2 separate regions of the Homo sapiens genome follow, and region 2 is linked to region 1. A link means that fine-mapping ties the variant in region 1 to the expression of a gene that starts in the linked region. Tissue or cell type: lung. Region 1 holds a variant in brackets; the other region holds the start of a gene. All regions are shown on one strand. Distances are from middle to middle.

What was found. PIP is the estimated chance that this variant, and not a neighbour inherited with it, causes the effect.
Region 2: it holds the start of NYAP1, and the variant in region 1 is fine-mapped to the expression of NYAP1 in lung (GTEx, PIP 0.94).

What each region holds. Positions count from the first base shown.
Region 1 is chr7:100,525,533-100,533,704 of GRCh38, reverse strand. It overlaps the pseudogene RN7SL416P. Among named protein-coding and RNA genes, the nearest start is that of AGFG2, 9.6 kb to the left of the region's middle. RefSeq lists a cis regulatory region at 28-372 and an enhancer at 5,971-6,100. The variant C/T (reference allele first, on the strand shown) is at 3,214.
Region 2 is chr7:100,480,376-100,488,547 of GRCh38, reverse strand. It overlaps NYAP1 (neuronal tyrosine phosphorylated phosphoinositide-3-kinase adaptor 1), which reads right to left and starts at 4,621. Exons shown (of 7, transcript NM_173564.4): 1 at 4,547-4,621; 2 at 3,169-3,320; 3 at 1,366-1,727; 4 at 1-396. The coding sequence starts at 3,236. RefSeq lists enhancers at 1,068-1,362, 3,800-4,326 and silencers at 1,928-2,222, 4,576-4,845, 5,018-5,233, 4,896-5,285.

The DNA.
Region 1 (8,172 bases):
CAGCTGAGCCAAGGGTTATTTCTTATCATCTTGCAACTTTGAGCAAATTGGTAAATTTAACTACCACCAATAGTGAGTGAAAAAAATTAGAACGTTCATGTAGATAGTGATGGTTTTCTGCTGATTTTTGCCACTGGGTGTGGTGGTGTGAGGGCCGTTGAGGAGCTCACCCTCCTCCCATCTCTACTCCACCCAGGTCATACTGGGGAGCAACACTCCCATTTTCCCTTCATAATCAGGGGGAGCACAGCCAGCATGGGGAGACCTTTTGCCCTGGTGGCAGGAGGAGTCCTAAATAACCAGGTAGAACTCTTATTGGGTTCCCTGGCAAGAACCTTGCCCTTGGGCAGTTAAACCACAGAGCATGAGTGACTTGGGGCGTGGAAAGCAAATATCTTTTTTTTTTTCTTTGAGACGGAGTTTTGCTCTTGTTGCCCAGGCTGGAGTGCAGTGGCGCGATCTCAGTTCACTGAAACCTCCCGGGTTCATGCAATTCTCCTGCCTCAGCCTCCCGAGTAGCTGGGATTATAGGCGCCCACCACCATGCCTGGCTAATTTTTGTATTTTTGGTAGAGACGGGGTTTCACCATGTTGGCGAGACTGGTCTCAAACTCCTGACCTCAAGTGATCCAGCTGCTTCCACCTCCCAAAGCGCTGGGATTACAGGCATGAGCCACCGTGCCCGGCCAGCAAAAAAATTTTAGAGAGAAAAATAATAGTGACAGCTACTCCCCACTGTCCCCCTTAACTGCAACCCTTGGTTTCTGGACCTCTCTATTGACTGAGGAAGACTGGGCGCTGCAATTCAGTCACTGTGAGGATCACATATCACTATCAGCGAGGGAGCGTTGCAGCCTCACAAGTGTGGTCTCGTGGATACTGGCTAGATTTGTTTTTGGTACACCAGTTCATTGTTCTACAAGGCCAGCTGTTTCTGGTACATGGGAAATAGGATAATGGGGCCCATGGCTGGCCAACTGTCTTGTTTTTCTTTTCTTTCTTTCTTTCTTTTTTTTTTTTTTTTTTTTTGACACAGGGTCTTGCTCTGTTGCCCAGCCTGCAATGCAGTGGCACCGTCATAGCTCATTGCAGCCTCTAATTCTTCGGTTCAAGCGATCCTCTTACCTCAGCCTCCCCAGGAGGTGGGACTACAGGCGCACACCACCATGCCTGGCTAGCTTTTTTATTTTTTGTAAAGAGAGAGTTTCACCATGTCTCCCAGACTGGTCTCGAACTCCTGTGCTCAAGCAATCTGCTCACCTTGGCCTCTCAAAGTGCTGGGATTAATTATAGGCGTGAGCCACTGTGGCCAGCCCATGGTAACTTGGTTTTGTTTGTTTGTTTTGTGTGTGTGTGTATGTGTGTGTGTGTGTGTGTGTGTATTGAGATGGAGTCTTACTCTGTCACTCAGGCTGGAATGCAGTGGCATGATTTCAGCTCACTGCAACCTCCGCCTCATGGGTTCAAGCGATTCTCCCTCCTCAGCCCCCCAAGTAGCTGGGATTACAGGCACCTGTCACCACGCCCAGCTAATTTTTCTATTTTTAGTAGAGACGGGTTTCACCATGTTGGCCAGGCTGGTCTCAAACTCCCGACCTCAAGTAATCCACCCGCCTCGGCCTCCCAAATTGCTGAGACTACAGGCATAAGCCATGTGCCCATCCTATGGTAACTTTGTATCCCAGATATTTACACTAAATTTCAGGAACAAGTTAGGAGATGTTCCCCGGAAGAAGAATAATTATCTGCTGAAATGTGGTCTTGTTTCAACACCCCAGAGGCCTCCAGGGAGATTGTCTACTGGGCATGGCAAAGGTTGAGTGGGCTAGACCCCTCTGGCACCACTGGATTAGCCAAGCCATAAGGGCATCTTGCTTTGTAACCTGGACTAATTTAGAAACTTCCTCTTTCACACAGGTGCGGTGGCTCATGCCTGTAATCCCAGCATTTTGGGAAGCCGAGGCGGGCGGATCACGAGGTCAGGAGTTCAAGACCAGCCTGGCCAACCAACATGGTGAAACCCCGTCTCTACTAAAAATATAAAAATTAGCCAGGCGTGGTGGCACACACCTGTAATTCCAGCTACTCAGGAGGCTGAGGCACGAGAATCACTTGAATCAGTGAGGTGGAGGTTGCAGTGAGCCAAGATCATTTCACTACACTCCAGCCTGGGTGACAAAGAGAGACTCTGTCTCAAAAAATAAATAAATAAATAAATAAAAAGTAAAAATGCCCAAGTCTATCCTCCAGAAATGAAATCTGGAATGTCTGAGATGAAAAGTACAGTGAATGGGACTAACAGCAGACTAGATACTACAGAAGAGAATATTATGAACTTGAAGACATAACAGTAGAAAGTATAAAAATGATTTATAGAGCTAGGCACAGTGGTGTGCACCTATAATCCCAGCTACTTGGGAGGCTGAGGCTGGAAGATCAGTTGAGCCCAGGAGTTTGAGACCAGCCTAGGCAACATAGCGAGACCCTGTCTCTTATTTTTTAAAATATTGGAAAAATGAAAAAAGACTGATAAAAACCCAAAACCCACAGATGAACAGAACACCAGTGAGCTGTGAGACAACTTCAGGTGGCCCCCTCAGGAATTGGTGGCAACAGGTATAATACATCTGGGGTAAAGGTAGAGGTTAAAAATAAGTATATTGACTGAAAATCAGTTTTATTTTATTTTATTTTATTTTATTTTATTTTATTTTATTTTATTTTTAAAAATTTTTTTTGAGATGGAGTTTTGGTCTTGTTGCCCTGGCTGGCGTTCAATGGCACGATCTCTGCTCTCTGCAACATCCACCTTTGGGGTTCAAGTGATTCTCCTGCCTCAGCCTCCCAAGTAGCTGGGATTACAGGCACCCGCCACCACACCCAGCTAATTTTGTATTTTTAGTAGAGACGAGGTTTCGCCATGTTGGTCAGCCTGGTCTCAAACTCCTGACCTCGTGATCCACCTGCCTCAGCCTCCCAAAGTGCTGGGATTACAGGCGTGAGCCACTGTGCCCTGCCTAAATGTCAGTTTTAAAAGACATTAGAGCCAGATATGGTGGTGTGCACCTGTAGTCACAGCTATTCAGGAGGCTGAGGCAGAAGGATTGCTTGAGTCCAGAAGTCCTGGGTTGTAGTGTGCTCTGCTGATTGGGTGTCTGCCCTAAGTTCAACAACAATGTGCTGACCTTCCAGAAGCGAGGGACCACCAGGTTG[C/T]CTAAGGAGGGTTGAACCTGCCCAGGTTGGAAATGGAGCAAGTCAAAACTCCTGTGCTGATCAGCAGTGGAGTCACGCCTGTGAATAGTCACTGTACTACGGCCTGGGCAACATAGTGAGACCCGTCTCTAAATTAAAAAAAAAAAAAGGGCATTAGACTCACACAAACGTTGGTTGCACTTCTATATATTAAATATGAGCAATGTCAAAAGGAAATTACAAAAACAATTACATTGGCCAGGTGTGGTGGCTCACCTCTGTAATCCCAGCACTTTGGGAGGCCAAGGCGGGCAGATCACTTGAGGTCAGGAGTTCGAGACCAGACTGGCCAACATGGGGAAACCTCGACTCCACTAAAAAAAAATACAAAAATTAGTTGGGTGTAGTGGCCCACGCCTGTAGTCCCAGCTACTTGGGAGGCTGATGCAGGAGAATGGCTTGAACCTGGGAGGTGGAGGCTGCAGTGGGCAGAGATCGTGCCACTGCACTCCAGCCTGGGTGACAGAGTGAGACTCCATCTCAAAAAACAAACAAACAAACAAACAAAAAAACCCCACAAAACATAAAAACAATTACATCTACAATAGCATCACACAGAATAAAATACTTAGGGATTAATTTAACCCTAATTAAATTAAGGAGGTGAAAGACTTGTAAAATGAAAACTATACAACATTGCTGAAAGAAATTAAAGAAGACAAAAATTTATGGAAACACATCCCAGTTCATGAATTGGAAGAGTTAATATTGTTAAGATGTGAATACTAACCAAAGTGATCTACAGATTTAGAGCCAGGCTCAGTGGCTCACTCCTGTAATCCCAGCACTTTGGGAGGAGTAGGTAAGCGGATCACCTGAGGTCAGGAGTTCGAGACCACCCTGGCCAACATGGAGAAACCCCGTCTCTACTAAAAATACAAAAATTAGCCAGGCATGGTGGCATGCACCTGTAATCCCACCTACTCAGAAGGCTGAGGCAGGAGAATCACTTGAACCCAGGAGGAGGAGGTTGCAGTGAGCCGAGATCGCACCGCTGCACTCCAGCCTGGGTGACAGAGCGAGACTCCGTCTCAAACAAACAAACAAAAACCAACAAAGTGATCTACAGATTCAGTGCAATCTCTATCAAAATTCCAATGATGTGTTCTGCAGAAATAGAAAAGCCCATGCTAAAATTTCTATGAAATCTCAGCGGACTCCAAATAGCCAAAACACTATTCAAAAAGACTAACAGGCTGGGCATGGTGGCTCACGCCTGTAATCCCAGCACTCTAGGAGGCCGAGGTGGGCAGATCACCTGAGGTCAGGAGTTCAAGACCAGCCTGGCCATGGTGAAACCCCATCTCTACTAAAAATACACAAAATTAGGCGGGCATGGTGGTGCATGCCTGTAATCCCAGCTACTCGGGAGGCTGAGGCAGGAGAATCACTTGAACCCAGGAGGCGGAGGTTGCAGTGAGCCAAGATCGTGCCATTGCACTCCAGCCTGGGCAACAGGAGCGAAACTCCATCTCAAAAAAAAAAAAGGGACTAACAAAATTGGAGGACTCACACTTCTTGATTTCAAAACTTATTACAAAGCCATGTGATCAAAACAGCATGGTACTGGCATAAAGACAGACATATAGGCTCGGGTGTGGTGGCTCATGCCTGTAATCCCAGCACTTTGCGGGGCCGAGGTGGGTGGATCATTTGAGGTCAGGAGTTCAAGAGCAGCCTGGCCAACGTGCTGAAACGCCGTCTCTACTAAAAAAAAAAAAAAAAAAAAAAAAAAAAAAATACAAACATTAGCCAGGTGTGGTGGCACGTGCTTGTCTTCCCAGCTACTCGGGAGGCTGAGGCAGGAGAATGACTTGAACCAGGGAGGCGGATGTTGCAGTGAGCCTAAATTGTGCCATTGCACTCCAGCCTGGGCGACAGAGCAATACTCCATCTCAAAAAAACGAAACAAAACAAAACAAAAAAAACCTGTCTTTTCAACAAATGGTATTGGGATAACTGCATATCTACATGTGAAAGAATGAAGTGGAACTCTTACCTAACACCATATACAAAAATTAACTCAAAATGGATAAAAGACCTAAATGTCAGACCTAAAACTAAGAAAGATTTAGAATAAACCATAGGGCAAGAGCTTCATGACATTGGATTTTGCAATTACAGTTGACCCTTGAACAAAGCGGGAGTTAGGGACAAAGGACTTGAACAGACATTTCTCCAAAGAAGATACACAAATGGCCAATAAGCACACAAAAAGATGCTCAACATCATTAGTCATTAGGAAATGCAATCAAAGCCATGGATGAGATACCACTTCACATCCACTAGGATGGCTGTAATCAAAAAAGGGAAAACTAGCAATTGTTGGTGAGGATGTAGAGAAATTGTAACCCTTGTACATTGCTGGTGGAAATGAAAAATGGTGCAGCTGCCATGGAAAGCAGTTTACCAGTTCTTCAAATAGTTAAATATAGAGGCCGGGCACAGTGGCTCACGCCTGTAATCCCAGCACTTTAGGAGGCCAAGGCGGGCGGATTGCCTGAGGTCAGGAGATTGAGACCAGTCTGGCCAACATGGTGAAACCCCATCTCTACTAAAAATACAAAAAATAAAAAATAAATAAAAATAAAAAATTAGCCGGGTGTGGTGGTGTACACCTGTAATCCCAGCTACTCGGGAAGCTGAGGCAGGGGAATTGCTTGAACCAGGGAGACAGAGGATGCAGTGAGCCGAGATCATGCCACTGCACTCCAGCCTGGGTGACAGAGTGAGACTCTGTCTCAAAAAAAAATAAAGTTAAATATAGAATTACTATATGACTCAGCTGTTTCACTCCTAGTTATATACCCTAAGGAGTTTAAAACAGCTATTCAAATCAAAACTTGTACACGAAAGTTCATAGCAGCACCATCCATGATAGCCTAAAGGTAGAAATAATCTAAATGTCCATTGACAGATGAGTGGATAGAGAAATTGTGGCATATACAGAACGGGGCATGGTGGCTCACACCTGTAATCTCAGCTTTGGAGGCTGAGGCAGGAGGATTGCTTGATCCCAGTAGTTTGAGACGAGCCTCGACAACAAGTGAGACCCCATCTCTACAAAAATTTTAACAAATTAAAAAATTAGCCAAGTGTGGTGGCACATGCCTGTAGTACCAGCTACTTGGGAGGCTGAGGTGGGAGGATCACACAGCCCAGGAGCAAGAGCCTGTCTTAAAAAGAAAAACAAAAACAAAGAGAAGCAATTGGAAAGAAACAGATACTATGTAAAGAGAAGAAAATTTTACCCAAAACCCACTATAATTAATATCCTTGGAGAGATAAGATACCATTTTCATGAAATATACACAGAACGTTATTTTAAAAGGAATATTCAGGCCGGGTGCAGTGGCTCCCGCCTGTAATCCCAGCACTTTGGGAGGCCGAGGCAGGTGGATCTCCTGAGGTCAGGAGTTCGAAACCAGCCTGGTCAACATGGCGAAACCCCGTCTCTACTAAAAATACAAAAATTAGCCGAGTGTGATAGTGGGAGCCTGTAATCCCAGCTACTTGGGAGGCTGAGGCAGGAGGATTGCTTGAACTCAGCAGACGGAGGTTGCCGTGAGCCCAGATCATGGCATTGCACTCCAGCCTGGGTGACAGAGCAAGAATCCGTCAAAAAAAAAAAAAAAAAAAAAAAAAAACAGAAAAAAAGGAATATTCAGAGAACAAGAAAGAAATCCTGGAAATTAAATATATAAACATGAAAACCTCAGTTGAATGGTTGGAAGATAAAATTGGAGAAATCCTGCAAAAAGCAGTTTAAAATATGAGATGAAAAAAATGATTAAAGGTAAATAAAAGAACAGTTCAGTAGATCTAATATATAAATAATAGAAGTTACAGAAGGAGAGAAGAGAAAAATGGAGGGGAAAAATATTACTGAAAAATTTAGCAAAATTTTCCAGAATTAAAGGGCATGAGTTTCTAGATTAACAAGACCTTAGTCAGGTGTGGTGGCTCACATATGTAATCCCAACACTTTGGGAGGCTGAGGCAGGTGGATCACCTGAGGTCAGGAGTTCCAGACCAGCCTGGCCAACATGGTGAAACCCGGTCTTTACTAAAAGTATAAAAATTAGGCCGGGCGCGGTGGCTCACGCCTGTAATCCCAGCACTTTGGGAGGCCGAGGCGGGAGGATCACGAGGTCAGGAGATCGAGACCATCCTGGCTAACATGGTGAAACTCCGTCTCTACTAAAAATACAAAAAATTAGCCGGGTGCAGTGGCGGGCGCCTGCTACTCGAGAGGCTGAGGCAGGAGAATGGCTTGAACCCGGGAGGCGGAGCTTTCAGTGAGCCGAGATAGCGCCACTGCAGTCCAGCCTGGGCAAAAGAGCGAGACTGTGTCTTTTTACTTTTTTTAAAAAGAAGTATAAAAATTAGCTTGCCGTGGTGGCGTGCACCTGTGGTCCCAGCTACTCAGGAGGCTGAGGCAGGAGAATTGCTTGAACCCAGGAAGGAGAGGTTGCAGTGAGCTGAGATTGCGCCACTGCACTCCAGCCTGTGTGACAAGAGTGAAACCACCTCAAACAAACAAACAAACAAACAAAAAAAAAAACAAACTAAAAAACAAGACCTATGAAGTGCCATGGTATAACTGATAAAAACCAAGAACCGGCTGGGCGCGGTGGCTCACGCCTATAATCCCAGCACTTTGGGAGGCCGAGGCGGATGGATCACGAGGTCAGGAATTCGAGACCAGCCTGGCCAACATGGTGAAACCCCGTCTCTACTAAAAATACAAAAATTAGCCGGACATGGTGGCGGGCGCCTGTAGTGCCAGCTACTCCAGAGGCTGAGGCAGGAGAATGGCTTGAACCTGGGAAGCAGAGGTTGCAGTGAGCCGAGATCGCGCCACTGCACTCCAGCCTGGCGACAGAGCGAGATTCTGTCTCAAAAAAGCAAACAAAAAAC
Region 2 (8,172 bases), 45 kb after region 1:
GGCCTTCCCCAGCCTCTTCCGGCAGCGGGTACTTCATCTCTTCATAGATGGCCTCACTCTCTTCAGAGTCCGAGTCGGCGCCCGCTGGAGGGGTCGGGCCCCCACCCCCAAGAGGGGGCCCAGCCAGGCCTCCTCCACTTCGTCCTCCTCCCCTAAAGACGTCCCCCACCATCTCAATGTACACAGGCTCTTCCTGGGCACCCACATCAGGGTCCCCAGCTACTCGGGACCCCCTAGTGAGGCGCTGAAGAGGCAGGTTCCCCCCTCGAGGAGAGGGGCCTGGGGGGCAGGACTCATCGAAGGAGACAGAGAGCTGGGTGTTAGGGCTTCGCCTGGGCTTCTGCGGAGGAACCTTCCGGCTGGACTCTCGGCCCTCTGGGGTTGGCTTCTGTGAGCCTGGACAGGACAAGAAAGAGAAAAATAAACCAGGCTTTTAATGAGGGGAGCAAGTGGGAGGAGCCCATTCTGATCCCTTGACCCTTCTGCAAGGACATATCTGCCTCTTCCTTTTCCCCACATTCCTCAACTTACAGCCCCAGGAGGTTTCTTCATTTCTTTTTTATTTTTTAATAGAGATGGGTCTTGCCATGTTGCCCAGACTGGTCCCAAATTCCTGGGCTCAAGGGATCCTCCTGCCTCGGCCTCCTAAAGTGCTAGGATTCCAGGCATCAGCCACCATGCCCAGCTGTAGGTTCCTTTTCTACTAGTCAGCCCTTGGTCTTTTTAAAACGTCAATTAATTGGCCAAGCACAGTGGCTCACGCCTGTAATCCCAGCACTCTGGGAGGCCGAGGTGGGTGGATCACCTGAGGCCAGCAAGCCTGGCCTTGTCAGCCTGGCCAACAAGACGAAACCCTGTCTCTACTAAAAATACAAAAAATTAGCCGGGCGTGGTGACGGACGCCTGTAATCCCAGCTACCTGGGAGGCTGAGGCAGGAGAACTGCTTGAACCTGGGAGGCGGAGGATGCAGTGAGCTGAGATCGCACCACTGCACTCCTGCCTGGGCAACAGAGCGAGACTCTGTCTCAAAAAAAAAAAAGTGCTGAGATTACGGGCGTGAGCCACGGGGCTTGTCCCACAGCCCTCAGTCTTTCTAACGTATTCTCCAGAATTCGCAGCTCCTACCTTCATTGTCCCTCTGAGGCCACCACCCCTTTCTCAAGAACTTTTCAGGGAGTGTCCCCTGCCCTTGAATGGTTCATCTCAGGCCCATCCAAAAGGACCCCCCCAATTCCTTTTGAGAATGGAATCTTCCACTTCCTTGGTTCTTCCCTGAATGAACCCTCCCGGCAAGCCTCCCCGGGCGTGGAATAGATCCTCCCAGCTCCCAGCTCCACCCCAGGGAGAGATAGGGGGTATCTCACCTGCTTTCTTGCTGGGGGGCGTCTCTGCCCCAGACCCAGGCCCCACCATGCTGAGCTTGGTGCTGGGGTGTCTCCGGGGCTTGGCAGGGGGTCTTCGGGTGCTGCTGTCCTCTGTGAGGCCCCCACTGGCCCCGCCAGGGCCACCCCCGACACTGTCCATGCTGCCCACCGAGTGGCAGGAGAGGGAGCGTGGGGCCATGGCGCTGCGGCAGGGGTGCGGGGTGTGCTCCTGGGAGGCGGGCATCGTCATGAAACCCATCCTGAGGGAGCGCCGCAGCGAGGCGATGTCCCGCACGCGGACCCCAGGCCCCTGGCCGGCCGCGGGCCCAGCCGAGCCAGCGGGGGCCACCTCCTTACTGGAGCTGGGGAGAGAAGGCCACGATGGAGTGGAGGAAGGGCCTCGGACCTGGGCATCCCCCTTCTCCACCCCAAGAGGTGTCAGCAACCCTGTGGCTTCCCAGGGAAGAGGACGGGAGCCTGGGTGGGGACAGGGTTGCCAGAAGGTCCAGGGCACCAATGAAGGGGCTTCAGGCAGAATCTTGGGCTTTAAAAACACAAGGCAGTTGGGGGCAGGGATGAGAAGAGGGGTGAGTATGCCTGCAGGGGAGCATCCCTGGGGCTGGCGGATCCCAGCCTGGGCACCTGTGTGGACAGCCTTGTGCAGAGGTAGAGATACAAACCCAGGTAACACAGATGGACACGCCTGCCCCCCACAGCTCCTTGGCCCCTCTCACTCTCACAGTGGCCCACACCTGGCCTCTGGTTACCCCTCCTGCCCAGCCACTGTGACCTCTGCCCCCACGGCACACCTCCTCTCCCAGATGCAGGATGTGCCCCTCCAGGACCAGAGCAGCCTCCCTCCCTGGCCCATCCTTCTTCCTCCCTCTCCCCTGGTGCTGTTCTCTCTCTGTCAGCCTCCCCGGCTCACCCCCATTCCATTCCACTGTCCCTGAGCTTCTGTCTGAGTGGAGGGTGGCAGAGGGTTGGGGGGGCGGCTGGCAGGGAAGAGAGGAGAGCTGTGTGGGGTGGGCACTCATTAAGGCCCTGTCTACTAGCCCTTCATTAGGGAGAGATCGCTGCAGCGATCACTCTGATTAATCTAATTAACAACAAGAATTAAACTCCACAGTTGCGAGGAAGGAAAAGGGAGGTGGCTGTGAGTCAGGCTCCAAGTGGCTGTGAAGTCAATGGGAGAGAAGAGGAGAAGGAGAGAAGGATGGGAGAGGCCAGGCCCCAGGTCCCTGGAAGGGCAAGCGGGGAGGCAGACAGGGATTGCAGGGGTCTGGAGGTCGTCCCCTGCCCTGGCTCTTTGGCAAGGCCCAGCCTGCATGTCTGCCCACCACACACACAACCCCATCACTTGACCACTCACCTCCCCCAGCAGGGAAAACTGGGAGGAGGCCAAGTGGATGTTCTCTGATGCCCCTGAAATGACCCCTTCCCTAGACCCTGGGAGAGAGGCGGGGCCTGCCCCTTCCAAGGTCAGGTGACAGGAGAGCCCGCAGCCAGCCCCAAATTTGCAGAAAGGAGAAGGGCTACAGGCCAGAGGTGAGTCAGGAAGGAGTGACTCGGGCCTCTGGGGATGGGGAACAACCAAAGGGGTGCTCCTAGGCTGTAAACCCCCCCACAGGAGAGCAGGAGTTGGGCCAGGACAGTGTGTGCAATCCTGGCCATTCCGTACTGACTCTGAGATCAGAGAGCTCACTCATGACAAGGCTGCCGGCCCCCGAGAAGGGCTGTGGCCCAGTGAGGGGGCAGGCAGAGGTGCGGAAGGGAAGGGAGCAGTCTGGGGTGCAGCCTTACCTCCTCTTGGCCTCCTCTTCCTTGTGCTGCCTCCACTCCAGCTTGGTTTTTCGGTAGAGGAGGTTCATCTCGTGGGGCAGGAGGTGGGGGCTGGGGGGCCCTGCTCAGTGCCACCAGGCCCGGGGGGCGGCCCTCCCTGGGTCCCGGATCCACTGGCGGGCGGGGTGGGTGAGAACGGAAAAAAAAGAAAGGTGGGATGGGTGGGGGCCAGGGATGAATGAAAGAGAGAAAACGGAGAAGAGACATGACTCGGGTCCTCAGAGAGGAAAACACAGACAGAAAACCCAACACAGCTTCGAGGACCCACAGACAGACAGACACAGACCCCGACAAAGGTGTTCAGAGCCCCAAATACACACTCTGGAGAGACCAGGTCAACACAGATTCCCTTCTTGTGTAAAGACATCCCGATCCACCACCCATACAGGCCCCACAAACGGACTGCAACCCCTCAGCTACACAAGTACACATTCAGACACACAAACCACGGAGCCACCGACCCACATCTACAGACAGAGGACCAGACGCAGAGATTGGCATAGGTAAACAGAAACCTAGGGATAGACAGGCACACAGACATAAACACCCACAGACACACCCACAGACCTCCAGACACACACAAATCTGCTACACAGAACTGGACACACCTACAGGCAGAGTTATGCCCAGGGCCTACTTGCGTACATTGCACCCCACTGGGAAAAGGGGAGATGGTCAGACTCTCCCCCCTATCTTGGGCTGTAGGGGGATCTCATGAGGGCAGGGTGGGGACGCTGAAGGAAGGATGGGAGACACCCTGAGTTGGGTATCTAAAATACCACCCATCCATCTATCTCCACTGCCTGCCTTCCCCCACTTCCAGTCCTTCCCCGGGCCTGGGCCTTGGTCCACCCCGATTCTGGCTCCCTGGCCCTTTAGCAATGGTTTAGTCTCTGCCTCCCTCCCTCGCTGATGGCCCCAATCACCTTCTTCTTCCTCCAGGATTTGGGAGGCCCCCTGGTTTTCCTCTTCCAGTCCCCGCCCCTCAATCCCACCCGGGGGGCTCCAGTCTGGCCCCACTGCTACCTTCTGGGCTGCGGCCTCCATACCTGCTCCGGTTTTCCTTCCCCCAAACCCACACTCTTCTTTTCGCCTTCAGCCTCACTTCTCCTCCCAGGCGCCCCTCCTTACAGCCGTCCTCCCCCTTCCCCTGTTCCAAACCTGGCCTGCTTCATCCCCCTTCTCCATCCAAGGGCCCCAGGTTCCTGGCACCCCTCCCCTTCCCCTTGTCCTGCTACCCTGGGCTTCTCCGCCTTTCGCTCCGCCAATCCTCCCTGTCCCTTGTCCCCCCACCCCAACCTTCCTGCACCAAGCCTCCCCAGGTTCTCCATCACCGTACCTGGCCTGCCGGGCGCCGGCCCCCCCATGCCGGGCTCCGCCCGGAGCAGGAGGAGGGAGGAGGAGAGACAGAGACAGACCGGGGGGAGCGAAGCTGGGCCCTGCCGCAGAGACAGCCCCGCCTCCGGGTCCGCCCCCAGACCCGCCCCCGGCCCCAAACCCACCCTTCCACACCCTCCAAGGACGGAACGGGAGCGGCCGTGCGGCGCGGGGCCGTGGGGCTGGGGCGCGGGGCGGGGGAGCCGCGGAGCCTGCGGGGGCAGATTCGGAGGAAGGTCGTGGGGCGCTGGGGGCCCGGCGCCAGCCCGTCGCGGTCTTTGGGCGTCCGCTCCTCGCCGCCCCTCGCCCCCTGCCCGGCCGGTCGGTGCTGAGTTCGGTCTCCCCGGCCCCGGCGGAGCGGCGTGCGGCGGCGCCCCCCAGCGGCAGCCTGGGGCCCACGCCCCCGCACCGTGTACCCCGTGCACCCCGTGCAACCCGTACGCCCGGCGCGCCCCGGGTCCGCACCCAGCGTCGGTCCGGGGCCGAGGCTGCGGCTGCGGGGCCCGGGGTGCAGTGAGGCGCTGGGGCCGCCAGGGGGTGCCGCTTTCCGGGCCGAGGGGCTCCGAGGGTGGGGAACGGGACGGGCGGCGGCTCAGCCCAGCAGGGGGCGTGCTCCGGCGGCCGCGCCCCCTTTCCCCACCGCCCCCAGGTGCCAGGAGAGCACCTGAGTTGGCTCGCGGGGGAATCGGCTGCCTCCCCCTGCAGCCTCCCGGGGGTGCCCGGATCTCGTTCCACCGTCTGGGCTCAAAGCTATCCGCCCCCGTGGCCCGAGTCCTCCTCTCGTGACCTTTGACTCCCCCGGCGCCGCTCGCAACGACCAGGGTCGACCTGAGTGTGGCCACCGCGGCTACCACCCTGGCACTGTCGGGGGGCCGCTACGGGACGTGACCTCGACCTCCCCTTTTCTCATTTATCTTTTCTTTTCTCATTATCTCCCCTAGAAATAACTCCCTCTGAAATCCCTTGGGCTCACAGCTCTGCAGCGGGGGTAAATCAGCTCGAGAAGACCTCGGTTGTACCTTCCACGGGCTGGAAAATGGGCACGGCAAAGATAGGCACGGCCTGATCCCTGGAGCCTGCGAATGCTACTTTCCATGGCAGCGTCTTTGCAGTCTTGCTGTGTGGCTTTAGGCAGATCGTGCAACCTCTCTGAGAGACGCTTTAGTCCGGGGATGTCCACTCTTTTAACTTCCCTGGGCCACATTGGAAGAAGAATTTGTCTTGGGCCACACATAAAATACTCTTAACACTGGCGGGGCGCGGTGGCTCACGCCTGTAAATCCCAGCACTTTGTGAGGCCGAGGCTGGTGGATCACCTGACATCAGAAGTTTGAGACCAGCCTGGCCAACGTGGCAAAACCCCGTGTCTACTAAAGATAGAAAAAATAAGCTGGGCATGGTGGCCTGCGCCTGTAATCCCAGCTACTCGGGAGGCCAAGGCAGGAGAATCGCTTGACCTGGAAGGCAGAGGTTGACGTGAGCCCAGATCGGGCCACTGCACTCCAGCCTGGGTGAGAGAGAGAGACTTTGTCTCAGAGAAAAAAAAAAAAAAAACGAAAACAAAAACAAAAACCAAAACTTAGGCGTTTTAAGAAAATTTACCAATTTGTCTTGGGCCACAAGCTGCCCGTGCGGTTGGACAAGCTGGCTTTAGTCCATTCTTTGGAAGGGGAGGGGTAGTAAAATAATACCAAAGTGCCTTGTAAATTGTAAAAGGTCCCACATATTATAGGCTATTAAGAATGCTCCCAGGGGAGGGAAATATTAAAACACTTAAAACCCATTTCACATTTATACCTTTAGTATGATTAGTTTATATGTATAGGCCGGGAGCAGTGGCTCACGTCTGTAATCCCAGCACTTTGGGAGTCTGAGGCATGCAGATCACTTGAGGTCAGGAGTTCGAGACCAGCCTGGCCAACATGATGAGACGCCCATCTCTACTAAAACTACAAAAATTAGCCAGGCGTCGTGGCGGGTGCCTACAATCCTGGCTACTCGGGAGGCTGAGGCAGGAGAATCACAACCTGGGAGGCGGAGGTTCAGTGAGCTGAGATCACGCCACTGCACTTCAGCTTGGGTGACAGAGCAAGACTTCATCTCAAATTAAAATATAAAAATTTGTATGTATTTACTCAACAAACATTTCTGCAGAGATCAACAATGTGCCAGGGCCTCTAGACTCAGATACCAGTGCCTGAGGCAGAGAAAGAGACTGCCCAAAGATAATTTTTGAATAGTTTGTAGCAAGTCAGCAAGAAGGAAGGAGGGTCTGGGGAAGGAGGGACCAAGGCTGTGTTCTGAATGTTGCTAGAGGAGAAAAGGTTCTGTAAGGGACAGAGGGATGCAGTCTAGAGGGGTAGGGAGCAGGTGGGAGGCTGCTTCCCAGACTTCACTACTTGGGAGGCCCACAGACTTGGGCTATGGCAGCCGTTGTTACTATGGCTTAAGGGAGAGAAACAGAAGTGTGGATGCTTCTAACAAAGAGATAAAGAATAAATACATAAAGAGGGTAGGTATTGCATTGTTTTATTTTTACGTACCCCTAAAGAGGGGTTAGAGGCCGGGCGTGGTGGCTTATGCCTGTAATCCCAGCACTTTGGGAGGCCGAGGCGGGCGGATCACGAGGTCAGGAGATCAAGACCATCCTGGCTAACACGGGGAAACCCCGTCTCTAGTAAAAATACAAAAAATTAGCCGGGCATGGTGGCGGGTGCCTGTAGTCCCAGCTACAGGCTGAGGCAGGAGAATGGCGTGAACCCGGGAGGTGGAGCTTGCAGTGAGCCGAGATAGAGCCACTGCACTCCAGCCTGGGCGACAGAGCGAGACTCCGTCTCAAAAAAAGAGGGGTTAGAAATTTCCCTGAGGCCAGGCACCATGGCTCACGCCTGTAATGTCAGCTCTTTGGGAGGCCCAGGTGGAAGTATCATTTGAGGCCAGGAATTCGAGACCAGCCTGGGCAACATAGTAATAACCTGTCTCTACAAAAACTAAAAAATTAGCCAGGTATGGTGGTATACACCTGTGGTCCCAGCTACTAGGGAGGCAGAAGCAGGAGGATCACTTGAGGCCGGGAGTTCAAGACCACCCTGGGCAACATTGCAAGATCCCCATCTCTACCAAAAAAAAAAATTTTTTTTTAAAGAAATTTAGCCAGGCGTAGTAGTGTGTGTCTGTGGTCCCAGCTACTTGGGAGGCTGAGGCAGGAGCATGGCTTGAGCCCAGGAGTTCCAGGCTGTGGTGAGCTATGATCGCACCACTGCACTCCATCCTGGGCAACAGAGAGAGAGAGAGACCCTGTCTCTAAAAAAAAAGGCGGGGGCAGGTTGGGGGAAAGGGGAATAGTATAACATCTAGGATCTGATTTCAAATAGTCCAGCAAACTACAGCTGGCCCCCACACAATGTCATTTCATTGAATGTCATTTCATTATAACATTGATGATTTTCTAAAAATTGATTTTGGGCTGGGACCACCATCTGTGTGGAGTTTGCATGGTCTCCCCATGTCTGCATGGCATGTTTGAAAATTTTCATAATAATCCACTTTTTTTTTTTTTTTGAGACATGGTCTCACTCTGTTGCCCAG